Homo sapiens: one gene and its partner. The protein of the gene in region 2 interacts with the protein of the main gene of each other region in a pairwise test. Each region holds a gene or a part of one and is shown on either strand. Other genes may lie near its edges.

Region 1 (7,364 bases), about 56 Mb from region 2:
TCGAGACCATCCTGGCTAACATGGTGAAACCCCACCTCTACTAAAAATACAAAAACAAAATTAGCCGGGTGTGGTGACGGGCGCCTACTCAGGAGGCTGAGGTGGGAGAATGACGTGAACTCAGGAGGCGGAGCTTGCAGTGAGCCGAGATGGTGCCACTGCACTCCAGCCTGGGCAACAGAGTGAGACTCTGTCTCAAAAAAATAAAAAATAAAAAATAAAGGCATATCCACCCGAATGAATAGTAGGCAATGGTGAGAAAACAAACAACTGAAAAAACTTTCTATTTGTAAGTATTTTCAAGCTTAAAAAAATTAAAATTATACAAGGAAGACATATATACCCTTTTCCAGATTCACCTATTGTTAATATTTACCTCATTTGTTTTATAATTTGCACTTGTGTTTCTCTCTCTCTAAACATTATATATGTATGTTATACATTTGATTTTTTTTCCCTGAACCATTAAGAAGCAGATTATATACAACACGGCACTTTACCCCTAAATACTTCAGTGCTTATTTTATAAGATTAGGGATATTCTCTTACATAATCAATCACAGTACCATTATTAACTTCACAAATTTACACTGATAGTTTTTTTAGCTTTTTGTTGTTGTTGTTTTGAGATAGAGTTTCACTCTTCTTGCCCAGGCTGGAGTGCAATGGCGTGATCTCGGCTCACTGCAACCTCTGCCTCCCGGGTTCAAGTGATTCTCCTGTCTCAGCCTCCTGCGTAGCTGGGATTTCAGGCACCTGCCACCACGCCCGGTTCATTTTTGTATTTTTACTAGAGTCAGAGTTTTACCATGCTGGCCAGGCTGGTCTTGAACTCCTGACCTCAGGTGATCTGCCTGCCTCGGCCTCCCGAAGTGTTGGGATTACAGGCGTGAGCCACCGCACCCAGCCTGTTGTTGTTGTTTAAGAGACAGATCTTGCTATGTTGCCCAGGCTGGAGTGCAGTGGCTATTCAGAGACACAATCACAGTTCACTATAACCTTGAACTCCTGGTCTCAAGTGATCCTCCTGCCTCAGCCTCCTGAGTAGGAAGGACTACAGCCATGTGCCATCATGCCAGGCTAACAATGATACAATAATTGTATCCGATCTGTCAACCATATGTCAATTTCGTCAGTTGACCTAATAATATTTTTAATAGTAGTTGTGATATTATGATATACATACATACCGGTTTTCATCCATGGTTCCTAGCTCATAACTCCCATATCCCTTATTATACATAATGTTGGGGCACTTTAGGCCTCAGGAGCAGCCCTTAGAAAAAAGAACCTCTCTTTGACCTTCTCCTGCCCTCCTTTCACCAGCCCAAGGCAGGATCTCCAAAAGGGGTCCTGCACCATATCCTGGAGGAAGATTAATGCTGCACAGAGAGGCCAAGAATTTGGACAGGCCTTGCTGTGTTTCCCCACTCAGCCTATCAGTATTAGGTCATACCCTTGCCCAGTCACATTTCTGCATGCCTGTCAATCATGCCTATCCAATGAAGTCTCCATAAAAGGCTCAAGAGGACAGGGTCTGGGAAGCTTCTGGACAGCTGAACACATGCAGGCTTACAGGAAGATGAACAAGGTCTCATCTATTTTCCAGGAGGGTGGCGTACCCCAGCTCCCTGGGGACAGAAGCTCCTGTGCTCAAGACCCTCCCAGACCTTGCCCTATGTATCTCTTCATCTGGCTGCTTATTTGCATCCTTTAAAATGTCCTCTGTAACAAACTGATAAATGTCAAGTAAGTTTCCCTGAGTTCTGTGAGGTGCTCTAGCAGATTAATTGAACACCCCAGAGGGGGTCGTGGGAGGCCAAACTTGAGGTCAGTAAGAAGTTCTGAAAGTCTGGACTTATGACTGGTGGGAAGGAAGAATCAGTCTTGGGGGACTGAACTCTCAACCTGTAGAATCTGAGGCTATTCCCAGGTAGATAGCATCAGAATTGAATTGAATTGGAGGACACCAGCTAGGTGTGACCGCTTGATGTGTGCGGAAAAATCTAAACACACTTGATCACAGAAGTCTTCTGTGTTCATTGTTGCTGTTGAATGAGAAAATAGAAAAAACAAACAGTTTGAGTTGTTTTTTCTACACTACATTAGTAGAGGATCCAGTCTAGGGTAAGGTATTGCGCATTTAGATGTCATATCTCTGCAGTTTCAAATAAGGAGATTCTTATCTCCAAAATAATTAAATGAAAAATGCAATTGGAAGACGTGTCTAGTTTTACTGCTTTGCATAAAAGGGGGAAAAATAGACACACTGTATACATGTTTTTTATTCATCTGTATATCACAGACCATCCCCCTTAGAAGGATACACAAAAAACTCTGTTAATACTAGTTGTCTCCAAAATGAGAAACTGGCATGGCTGAGTGAGAGGAAGACTTCTGACTGTTAACAACTTTTGAATTTTGTACTATATGAATGTATAATCCAATTTTTAAAAGATTAAAAACTGCTGCTGCTAGAGGCAAGTATTAAGTACAATCTATTCATATTCAGTAATAGACATACGTTTGGCTGGATGAACTACAGAGGCTACAAAAAATATTTTGTTATCCTACCATGTTCTTTGTTCCAACCTCTTAGGTCTTCCTAGAAACAAAGGCATCAGAGTCAAGACCATAAAGGAGTGCATCTTAAGACAATGCATGGTACCATTTTACCTTCACAAAAGTTTGCTCTGTGCTCAAGAGGCAATTTATCATTTAGAAAAAAACAGTGTCTCAAATTCTCTTTAATATGTGATGATCTCCAACATTTTTTTTTTTTTTTTTTTTTTGGAGATAGAGTCTCACTCTGTCGCCCAGGCTGGAGTGCAGTGGCACCATCTTGGCTCACTGCAACCTCTGCTTCCCGGGTTCAAGCAATTCTCCTGCCTCAGCCTCCTGAGTAGCTGGGACTACAGGTGTGTGCCACCACGCCCATCTAATTTTTTGTATTTTAGTGGAGAAGGGGTTAATTTTTTGTATTTTAGTGGAGATGGAGTTTCACCATGTTGCCCAGGGTGGTCTTGAACTCCTGAGCTCAGGCAATCCGCCCACCTCAGCCTCCCAAAGTGCTAAGATTACAGGTGTGGGCCACTGCACTCAGGAATATCTTTTTAAAAGTGTGAAGCCTCTGTCTCACTCAAAGCAACCACTAGGAAGAGCACAGCGGCTTTAGTGAATCAAGAAATTTATCCCAATGTAACCCTGTTCATTTCATACAGAACAGGGCATATAAAGAGTAAATACTTGGCTGGGCACGGTGGCTCACGCCTATAATCCAAGCACTTTTGGGAGGCAGAGGCAGGCAGATCACTTGAGGTCAGGAGTTCGAGACCCACCTGGCCAACACGGCAAAACTCTGTCTCTACTAAAAATAAGAAAATTAGCCGGGTGTGATGGCGTGCACCTGTAATCCCAGCCACTTGGGAGGCTGAGGCAGGAGAATTGCTTGACCCCGGGAGGTGGAGGTTGCAAGATCGTGCCATTGCACTCCAGTCTGGGAGACAGAGCAAGACTCTGTCAAGAAAGAAAGAAAGGAAGAAAGAAAGGAAAGAAGAAAGAAAAAGAGTAAATACTCCTCTTTTATGCACACCTGATAAAGGTATCCTCCTGGTATTATCTTTCACTTGACCTCAAAACCATCAGCAACAGTAGAAGGTCTGGCTTCAAGACGAGAAATCTGAGTCACGAATATGTGAACTTGATAACTACCACTTAAAAATGTCACCAACCAGTACCACAGCCCTGAGATAAGAGATGAATCAAAATATTCCATACTGGCTTCAAATATTTAAACTGCAAAAGATGGCTGGGCATGGTGGCTGACGCCTGTAATCCCAGTACTTTGTGAGGCCGAGGCAGGCAGATTGCTTGAGTCCAGGAGTTCGAGACCAGCCTGGGCAACAAGGCAAAACCCCATCTCTACCAAAATACAGAAATTAGCCCAGCGTGGTGGTGCATGCCTGTAGTCCCAGCTACTTGGGAGGCTGAGGTGGGAGAATCACTTGAACCTGGGAGGCAGAGGTTGCAACAAGCTGAGATTGCACCACTGTACTCCAGCCTGGGTGACAGAGTGAAACCCCATCTCAAAAAAATAAATAAATAAAATAAAAATGCAAAATATATTAATTTGCTATTAAAGATATCTACAAGTTTTGGATTAAAGATTGGTTCTACTTAGACTTTAATTAGAAAAAGTCATGCCAAAATACAGTGTGGGGTCACCATAGCTCTAGTCCCCTAATTCAAGTGCATTCTAAGAGATACGCTATATACCAGGTGTGACTACAAGTAACTTTAATTTAGCTGTAAAAGGAAAGTTCTAAACTTCATAGAAAATAGGTGGCTGAGGGCCCCCAATCATGGTTTAAGGAAAAAGGAAAAGGTCAGGTGCAGCAACGCATGCCTGTATCCCAGTTACTTGGGAGGCTGAGGCAGGAAGATTAACTGAGCTCAGGAGTTGGAGGCCAGCCTAGACAACATAGTAAGACCCTGTCTCAAAAAAATAAAACAAAACAACAGCCGGGCGTGGTGGCTCACGCCTGTAATCCCAGCACTTCGGGAGGCTGAGTCAGGCGGATCACAAGGTCAGGAGATCGAGACCATTCTGGCTAACACGGCGAAACCCCATCTCTACTAAAAATACAAAAAAATTAGCCGGGCGTAGGGGTGGGCGCCTGTGGTCCCAGCTACTCGGGAGGCTGAGGCAGGAGAATGGCGTGAACCTGGGAGGGAGAGCTTGCAGCGAGCCGAGATCACACCACTGCACTCCAGCCTGGGTGACAGAGTGAGACTCCATCTCAAAAAAAAATAAGTAAATAAAACAAAACAAAACCAAAAACGATCTTATGTTAATATGTAGAATCTGCTCTGAATAAATCTTTTAAATCAGGAACGATTAAAAGACAGAGAAAGAATTTATAGCACACTGAAATAAGATTTTTAAAAAATTATGTGGACTGTATTCAAAGCTTGAATTCTTACTCAAAGTTCCTACTTACCTTTCCATATTAATGGGTGGAGCATGCATTTTGGTTGCTTCAGAAGTACGCTTGCCCATACTAGAGGACATGATGGTTTCACCTTCAGATTTTAATTTGTCCACAAAGTTATCTACTTCCTTTCCTTTGGCTCCAAGTTTTAAAGCCTTGCTGGGGCCTGAAGGCCTAAGTGGAAGAATTTGAAATTCATTACCCAAAGGTTTATTTTTACAAGCACACATGATCTGATGAAAATTTTGTATCTCCCGTCCAGAGAAATACACCTGTGCACAAAATTTTGTATATAATTTTGGGTAATTCACAGATTTCCCCTAAAATCAATCAATGAACATCAAGATTAAAAATCTACATTCCATAAAGCATTAAATAGCCCTTTCCTCCCCACAATAAGGCAACTCTCATAGGAAACTGAGGTCATGACATAATTTATAACTCTCTTTTATACAAAAGGAAAAACACCACATTCAGATTTCTTCTTTATCCTCATATTGTATGTGGCCAAATGTAACATCATATCTTACTTCATCAAGTCCTTCTTTATTTACAGCTTTCCAAGAAATCAGATTATGACTTCAAAGATAGACACATATACACCCTTCACCTGGTATTCTAAAGTACACTGGATTATACCTGGCTGGTGCAGGTGCCACTTTTGGTTTATCAGTTTCAATGATGGTCTCTGTGATCATGGCAGCTGTGCTGCCTCCAGATACTGCAGAGCTGCCAAATCCGCCAAATCCTGGTGCTTTTTTGCCCTGTCTCTCTGCATCTCTTCGGGCCTGTTGTAATTCCTTTGCTTTACGACGCATCTCAGCCTTAGCTTCACGTTCTTGAGTCTACAGAAAAAGACATACATTAATGTAGCTTTTTTTTTTGGGTTTTTGTTGAGACAGGGTCTCACTCTGTGACCCAGGCTGGAGTGCAAGTGGCACAATCACAGCTCACTGCAGCCTCAACTTCCTGGGCTCAAGTGATCCTCCCATCTCAGCCTCCCAAGTAGCTGGGACCCACATGCACGTGCTACCATGCCTGGCTAATTTTTTTTTTACTTTTTATAGAGACAGGGTCTCACTACGCTGTCCAGTCTGGTCTTGAACTCCTGGACTCAAGTGATACTCCCACTTCCGCCTCCCAAAGTGCTGAGATTACAGACATGAGCCACTGTGCCTAGCCTGGACATAGTTTTGAATACAGTCTACATTAGTAAGTAAAAATAGGAAAATGAGATTAGTGAAGCCTAAGAGAAAGACATACAAACAGGTAGTCCCAGAGAAGATCCTATTTACCTCTCTGACGGCTCTGAACACCTTCTCCTCATGAGAATCCATTTCTGTGAAGGTTCTGATCTGTGCCAAGTTAACATTCTCCCGGTATCCCAGTGCGACAATTTCATCAAAAGCAAAAATCAAATCAAAACAGTGCTCAGATATTTCATTCTCTTCTAAGGCTCGGCAATATTCAGGGATCTAAGCGTGGACACCAATAAAAAAGAAAGATTTAGAATTTATCAGCAGCTATATTTCCAAGTCTTATCCTTTAGAGTACATAAATTTCAATAACCTAAATCCCTTTATTAGCTACTTCTAGTCTTTATTTTATTTTTTGGGACAGAGTCTCGCTCTGCTGCCCACGCTGGAGTGCAGTGGTGCCATCTCGGCTCACTGCAACCTCCATCTCCTGGGTTTAAGTGATTCTCCTGCCTCAGCTTCCGGAGTAGCTGGGACTACAGGTGTGTACCACCACGCCCAGCTAATTTTTGTATTTTTAGTAGAGACGGGGTTTCACCATGTTGGCCAGGCTGGTGTTGAACTCCTGACCTCAGGTGATCCGCTTGCCTCAGTCTCCCAAACTGCTGGGATTACAGGCGTGAGCCACTGCGCCCAGCCTAACTCCCTGATTTTTTTTTTTTTTTTTTTTTTAAGACAAAGTCTAACTCTGTCACCCGGTCTGGAGTGCAGTGGCACGATCTCGGCTCACTGCAACCCCCACCTCCTGGGTTCACGCAATTCTCATGCCTCAGCCTCCTGAGTAGTAGGATTATGGGTGCCCGCCACCATGCCCAGCTAATTTTTTTGTATTTTGAGTAGAGACGAGGTTTCACCACGTTGGTCAGGCTGGTCTCAAACTTCTGACCTCAGGTGATCCACCCGCCTCAGCCTCCCAAAGTGCTGGGATTACAAGCGTGAGCCACCACGCCCAAGACCCTGATTCTTACAGCCGGGTGCAGCGGCTCATGCCTGTAATCCCAGCACTTCGGGACGCCAAGATAGGCAGATCACCTGAGGTCAGGAGTTCGAGACCAGCCTGGCCAACATGGTGAAACCCCGTACAAAAATTAGCCAGGCATGGCGATGCACATCTGTA
Region 2 (7,132 bases):
ATGGGTGCCATCCTTTAATCTGTACTTTCTTTTTCTTCTTTTTTTTTTTTTTGAGACTGAGTCTCGCTCTGTCACCCAGACTGGAGTGCAGTGGCGCGATCTCAGCTCACTGCAAGCTCCGCCTCCTGGGTTCACGCCATTCTCCTGCCTCAGCCTCCCAAGCCGGCCAGTCTTGGGGTAATTTTATCTTTTCCTGCAGCAATGTAAACATTTTGAAAGTACAGATTAAGGCTGGCCGCGGTGGCTCACGCCTGTAATCCCAGCACTTTGGGAGGCTGAGGCGGGCAGATCACAAGGTCAGGAGATCGAGACCATCCTGGCTAACATGGTGAAACCCCGTCTCTACTAAAAATACAAAAAATTAGCCGGGCGTGGTGGCGGGCGCCTGTAGTCCCAGCTACTCGGGAGGCAGGAGAATGGCGTGAACCCGGGATGTGGAGTTTGCAGTAAGCTGAGATCCCACCACTGCACTCCAGCCTGGGCAAGAGCCAGATTCTGCCTCAAAAAAAACAAAAAACAAAAAAAATTACCCCAAGACCAACTACCTAAAAATAGTTTACATATTCGATACCTTCTCTTCTAGACTTTTTTCATCTCTGTGTACTGTTTTTTTGTTTGTTTGTTTTGGTTTTGGTTTTTTTTTTTGAGACAGAGTCTTGCTCTGTCCCCCAGGCTGGAGTGCAGTGGCAATGACCTCTGCTCACTGCAAGCCCTGCCTCCTGGGTTCGTGCCATTCTCCTGCCTCAGCCTCCCGAGTAGCTGGGACTACAGGCACCCGCCACCACGCCCAGCTAATTTTTTTGTATTTTTAGTAGAGACAGGGTTTCACTTTGTTCGCCAGGATCTCCTTACCTTGTGATCCGCCTGCCTGGGCCTCTCAAAGTGCTGGGATTACAGGCGTGAGCCACCGCGCCCGGCCCCGTCTGTGTACTGTTACAGAAGCTACTTTTTTTTTTTTTTTTTTTTTTGAGACAGAGTCACCCTCTGTTGCCCAGGCGGAGTGCAGTGGCAGGATCTCGGCTTACTGCAACCTCTGCCTCCCAGGTCCAAGCAAGTCTCCTGCCTCAGCCTCCTGAGTAGCTGGGGCTACAGGTTCAGGCCACCACGCCCGACTAATTTTTTTTGTATTTTAGTAGAGATGGGGTTTCACCATATTGCCCAGGCTGGTCTCAAACTCCTGAGCTCAGGCAATCTGCCCGCCTCAGCCTCCCAAGAAGCTACATTCTTTTGAGCATTTACTATGTACCAGGTACTATGCTAAACACTTTTACTTCATGATTTTCAGAACAACCCAATGAAGGTACTTCCCCTTTATAAATGAGAAAATTGAGGCTGCGAGGTTAGGCTCTTAGTGATATAATTGCTCTATTTTTTTATAAGCAAAAAATACCACAGAAATTAATTTTTAGCTCAAGTGCAGCAGCTTATCATGGCCCATTGCAGCTTTGACCTCCCAGGGTTCAAGCAGTCCTCCCAGCTCAGCCTCCTGAGTAGTTGGAACTACATGCCTGTGCCACTATCCCGGGCTCATTTGTTTTTGTAGAGTTAGGGGTGTCACTTTATTGCCAGGGCTCAAGCAATCTGCCCACCTTGGCCTCCCAAAGTGCTGTGATTATAGGTATGAGCCAGCATGCCTGGCCTAGTTTTGTAATTTGATAATATATCAGTAATATTTTTGTCCCCTCTCTTCCTCCATCCCAGGCTGGGCTTGGAGCCCACAGGACCCTAGAAGTCCTTTAAGAACATTTAACGCTGGACTCAGCTGGGGGCAGGACCAGGATGAAGAAGATGCTTGTTGGATTCTTGAGGACACAGCATGTCTGGAAGCCACCAACCACTGTCCCTTCTGGGACTCAACAGGCTCCCGTGTTTGTAGAAGTGGCTTTGTGGAATATTCCCATCTCCTGCCTCCTAATAGCTTTGAGGGTAAGTATTGTTCCCTCCCCCTCAAATATCTCATCCAGGTTTATGAAGCTCCTTATACCCATCCTCTTACAATCTCCTTTTACAGGTGACAAAAATGAGGCTTACAGGTTAGGCCACTAGATTATACAAGTCAGTCAGCGCAGGGGTTTTGATTCAGTTCCTGTCTGCTGCTTTTAGGAGCTCCAGTTAGTTGAAACTGGGGAATGACCCAATTGTACCTTCTCTTTTCAGCATTCATTTTGTGCTAAATATTGCGCACATCATTGTATGTAATCTCCGTAACTCCAAGTTATTCTCACTCTGCAGATGAGTAAACTGGGGAACAGAAACATTCAGCAATATGGCACCCAGCTAGTAAATGTGGAAGCCAGGACTCAAATTCTCACTTTGCAGCCAGATAGCTTGCAAAGACAGTTCTTCAGCCCTCTCCTTGCCCACAGAAATACTAGGGTCAGGACTACTAAAATGTCTTTAATGAGAGCCTTGAATCAAGTAAGCAAAGTAGGTGATGCCCCTGAACGGGCCTAGCTCCTGCACAGTCACAGTCCAGCCATAGGACCCTTGTTCCAGGCAGGGCAGTCGCACATCAGGGTCCTCATCTGAGAACTGAATCAGGGTCCCCTGAGGGTTTAGAACCCTCAAGCATTCTGATAGAAGCTGGTAAGCCCTAGGCAGACCTCCCCGGGCAACAGCATCCCATGTGCCTTTGTCCAGCAGTAGTTGGAAAGAGCCTGAAGAAGCCACAGCCCCCAGGTTCTGAGCATCGGCGTGCATGAAGTGGAGGCTTGAGGCAGGGTGTCCAGGGCATAGAGGTGTTTGGCCTGGGCCACCCTCCAGGAGGCTATTCATGTGGGCCACAGCCACAGGAGAAAAGTCCACCCCCAGCACATCCACTGGGTGTGGAGATTTGGTGTAGAGGCCTGTACATAGGCTGGAAGTCCCACAGCCCACATCCAGCACTCGCAGAGGACTGGCAGCCTGTGCCTCCTGCAGCAATGGCAGTAGGAGCCCCTGGACTTCGTCGTATCCAAAGAACCAGTCGAAGGTGGGGACAGTGCCCAAACGAGGCTGGGCATGCAGCCGATCCCAGAGACAGCGGTCCGCCAGGCAACTATCAGCCAGTGAGCCTGTGGGCACGGTTGGAGGGTGTCACTTGGTCTATGTCGCCACTGCAAAAACGTCGTATATACACACTGGCGTCTTTTTTTTTTTTGAGACAGGGTCTCACTCTGTGACCCAGGGTTGAGTACAGTAGCACAATGATGGCTCACTGAAGCCTCCACCTCAGCCTCCTGAGTAGCTAGGACTATAGGCGCCATCGTGCCCGGTTAATTTTTTTTGTAGACAGGGTCTCGCTATGTTGCCCTAGGTTGGTCTCGAACTCCTGGGCCAAGCGATCTGCCCGCCTCGGCCTGGCAAAGTGTTAGCATTACAGCCGTGAGCCACCACGCACGGCCCACCGTAGGGTTTGAGAATCACAATTTCAGGGACTACACTCCTGACTCACGAGGAACCCACCTTACCCTCCCCACTCTGCCCCCACCTTGCCCTCTCCACTCTGCCCCCACCTCCCTACCCGCAAAGGGGCGGCACGTCCCCATCATCAGGCTCGGCAAGTGGAGCATTCGACGCAGCGCGGCCATCTGGAGATTCGGGTAAGTTCGACCAGAGAAGCTTATGTGAAGCGTCCACCCTACTCCAGCCGGAGAGGCCTGAGGTCCAGGGGAAGATCTGCAAATTCCGCGTAGCGAAAGGCGGCGTACAGCTTCCCCGAACTCTGCAGTCCCGGAAAAAAGAACGCGGACACAGACTATGGTAGGAACGGCCTTTATTGGCTGCAGCGGGAAGTGGAGGAGGGTATACAGCGTCCGCAGACCTGAAATCAAATGAGAAAGTGTGAGCACCCCGATGGAGGAGCCAGCTGGATCTCGGTTGTCCTTCTCCGAGATTCCCGGTGTCCCGGCGTTTGAGGATAGAACCAGCGGATGGGAAGCCGCCAGCACCGAAGACATGACGCCGAGGGGGCCAGAGCCCTTTCCCTCTTCCTCCGTACATTACGGGGAGCGGCACCACAAGCCCGATCCCCGCCAAGAAAAGGAGGGTCCTGAGACCCCGCCCAGAGCCTTCCACCCGGCACCCCCACCACTCCCGGCCGCCCAATCTGGCTACTACAGCTAAAACCACACTTACTAGCTCACCACCCTCCGAAAGGCCTCCCGCACCGCGGAGCTCCTTTATATAGCCCGAGGACCCGCCCCCGAGTTGCGATTGGCCCGCGGAAGGCCGGGGCGGAGCCCCGCGGATCCGGCGCTGAGCGGAAGTACGGACCGTGAACTGGAGTGGAATCGCGACTATGGGAGCTCCGGGGGGAAAGATCAACCGGCCCCGAACGGTGACTGTGTGGGGGCCGCGACTTTGTTTCCTCAAGCGTTCCTGAGCCCTTTTATCTCGCACGAGATGGGATCAGTGAGGGGCCGGGGCTGCCTGGTGGAGGGGCCCCGGGTCGCGGCGAGCCCACTCCATCTGATTCGCATCTTTCTCCCCGGCAGGAGCTGAAGAAGAAGCTGTTCAAACGCCGGCGGGTGTTGAATCGGGAGCGGCGTCTGAGGCACCGGGTGGTCGGGGCTGTGATAGACCAAGGGCTGATCACGCGGCACCACCTCAAGAAGCGGGCGTAAGTACTAGACCCTCTTCCTGTTGGTCGTCCCCACCGAGTCTTCCTTCCTCCCTGCAGAGCTCCGGAGCAGCTTCACCTCTCAGCTCACCTTGTGCACTGACGCTTATGCGGGGAATGTCTGTCGGCTGTTAGTTCCTAAGCTCTGATAGCCTCTCACAATACCTGTAGCAGACAACCTTTCTTTGGGTTTTGGATTCTGTTAAGAATCTCAGGAAAGCCGGGGATGGTGGCTCATACCTGTAATCCCAGCACTTTGGGGGGCTGAGGTGGGCGGATCACCTGAGGTCGGGAGTTCGAGACCAGCCTGACCAACATGGTGAAACCCCGTTTTTGCTAAAAATACAAAAATTAGCCAGGCGTTGTGGCCGGCACCTGTAGTCCCAGCTACACGGGAGGCTGAGGCAGGAGAATTGCTTGAACCTGGGAGGCGGAGGTTGCAGTGAGCCGAGATCACGCCACTGCACTCCAGCCTGGGCCACAGAGTGAGACTCCGTCTCAAAAAAAAAAAAAAAAAAAAAAGAATATCAGGAAATCTGTTGGCTCTCCATTCTCCAAGTAATGTTATACATTCACACAGATTTTTATAAGTAAACTTATTTTTACATACAGAAAAGTGCACACATAGGCGCATAAAACTCGAAGAATTTTCCCAAAGGCACTCATAGGATTTCACTTGTAAGTTTCAAGGCCTCCTGTGTCTTGAGGAAGAGTTCCCATCCCATTAATTACTTTCTGTGTCCTTTTTTTTTTTTTTTTTTTTTTTCCTCTTTTTTGAGACAGAGTCTCCCTCTGTTGCCCAGGCTGGAGTGAAGTGGCATGATCTCGGCTCACTGCAACCCCTGCCTCCTGGGTTTAAGCTATTCTCTTGCCTCAGCCTCCCGAGTAGCTGGGATTACAGGTGCTCCCCACTGCACCCGGCTAATTTTTGTATTTTTAGTAGAGACGGGGTTTCACCATGTTGGCCAGGCTGGTCTTGAACTCCTGACCTCAGGTGATCCGCCCACCTCAGCCTCCCAAAGTGTTGGGATTACAGGCATAAGCCACCGCCCCCGATCTATGTCCTTTCATTAGCTTCTTCAATGTAAATATTTAGGGTTTCTATTACTATTTATATTATATTTATTTAATACTTTTCCTTTTTTTTTTTTTTTTGAGACGGAGTCTCGCTTTGTCGCCCAGGCTGGAGTGCAGTGGCGCGATCTCGGCTCACTGCAAGCTCCGCCTTCTGGGTTCACGCCATTCTCCTGCCGCAGCCTCCCGAGTAGCTGGGACTACAGGCGCCCGCCACTGCGCCCAGCTAATGTTTTGTATTTTTAGTAGAGACAGGGTTTCACCGTGGTCTCGATCTCCTGACCTCGTGATCCAGCCGCCTCGGCCTCCCAAAGTGCTGGGATTACAGGCGTGAGCCACTGCGCCCAGCCTATTTAATACTTTTTCTATAGCCAGAACTATTTGTGTGACCTCAGTTGGTTCAGGTTAACCTAGCTCTCTTTATTTCCACTTACCCATCAGGTCCAGTGCACGTGCCAACATTACACTGTCAGGGAAGAAGCGCAGAAAACTCCTCCAGCAGATCCGGCTTGCCCAGAAAGAGAAGACAGCCATGGAAGGTGAGGCTGGGACAGAGGTGGGTGAGGGGAATCCTGGATTTATTTGGGATAATACTTCCTTCTTCCCTTTACTCAGTGGAAGCCCCTTCAAAGCCAGCCAGGACTAGTGAACCACAGCTCAAAAGGCAAAAGAAGACAAAAGCCCCCCAGGATGTAGAAATGAAGGACCTTGAAGATGAGAGCTAAACCTCTTCCACTAGAAGATTCTCAACTGGAGCCAGCCTTCAGACTCAGTGGTTGTTTCAGAGGACTTTGACAAAAGCAAGGCCCCTTTTCACTCTCCAGATTTCCTCCTACCTAATGGCCTACTGACCTCCCCTAGAGGGATGTCTTTGGGAGGGAAGAAGGTACAGAAGAAAGATTGGAGAAGGGCCTCTCTAGCAGTCAACTCCATTTGTAATAAAGCCCTAGCACTCTGAGATGTGTGTGATTAAATGTAGGAATGGGGATGGGTCATGAAAAGATTGGGGAGTATGGAAACAAGACAGTGAGGAAGCAGTACCCACAGCTTCCTTGTGCAAATGCAACAAGATGCCAGCCTCTGCCCTCAAGAGTGGTGGTGCCTGGCCGGGTGCAGTGGCTCACGCCTCTAATGCCAGCACTTTGGGAGGCCGAGGCAGGTGGATCACCTGAGGTCACAAGTTCGAGACCAGCCTGGCTAACCCCGTTTCTACTAAAAATACAAAAAATTAGCCGGGCGTGGTGGTGCACGCCTGTAATCCCAGCTACTTGGAGGCTGAGGCAGGAGAATCGCTTGAACCCGGGAGGCGGAGATTGCCTACCGGGGTATTGCTTGAGGCCAGGAACTCAAGGCTGTAGTGTGCTGTGATCTCATCTGTCTCCTTAGTGAGTGATACTCTAACTTTCCATTTATGACAAAGATACAGATTATTCGAGAAGTTGAAGTTACAGTGAGCCA

What was found.
Region 1: the proteins of LBHD1 (region 2) and ARCN1 interact in binary tests that used the Homo sapiens proteins (3 or more experiments, as listed by UniProt).

What each region holds. Positions count from the first base shown.
Region 1 is NC_000011.10:118,582,281-118,589,644, reverse strand, and holds part of ARCN1 (coatomer subunit delta), read right to left. Parts: intron 6,467-7,364; coding exon 6,287-6,466; intron 5,837-6,286; coding exon 5,631-5,836; intron 5,166-5,630; coding exon 5,001-5,165; intron 1-5,000. UniProt on the Homo sapiens protein: Component of the coatomer, a cytosolic protein complex that binds to dilysine motifs and reversibly associates with Golgi non-clathrin-coated vesicles, which further mediate biosynthetic protein transport from the ER, via the Golgi up to the trans Golgi network.
Region 2 is NC_000011.10:62,662,317-62,669,448, reverse strand, and holds the end of LBHD1 (LBH domain-containing protein 1), read left to right. Parts: intron 1-1,340; exon of another isoform or gene 1,341-1,701; coding exon 1,702-1,926; exon of another isoform or gene 1,927-2,397; coding exon of another isoform or gene 2,398-3,053; intron 3,054-3,502; coding exon of another isoform or gene 3,503-3,938; exon of another isoform or gene 3,939-4,137; intron 4,138-4,232; exon of another isoform or gene 4,233-4,279; coding exon of another isoform or gene 4,280-4,318; exon of another isoform or gene 4,319-4,475; coding exon 4,476-4,600; intron 4,601-6,115; coding exon 6,116-6,213; intron 6,214-6,289; coding exon 6,290-6,320; coding exon of another isoform or gene 6,321-6,399; 3' UTR 6,400-6,632; downstream 6,633-7,132. Other genes in the region: CSKMT (citrate synthase-lysine N-methyltransferase CSKMT, mitochondrial), read right to left, coding at 2,398-3,053, 3,503-3,938; uncharacterized protein C11orf98, read left to right, coding at 4,280-4,318, 4,476-4,600, 6,116-6,213, 6,290-6,399.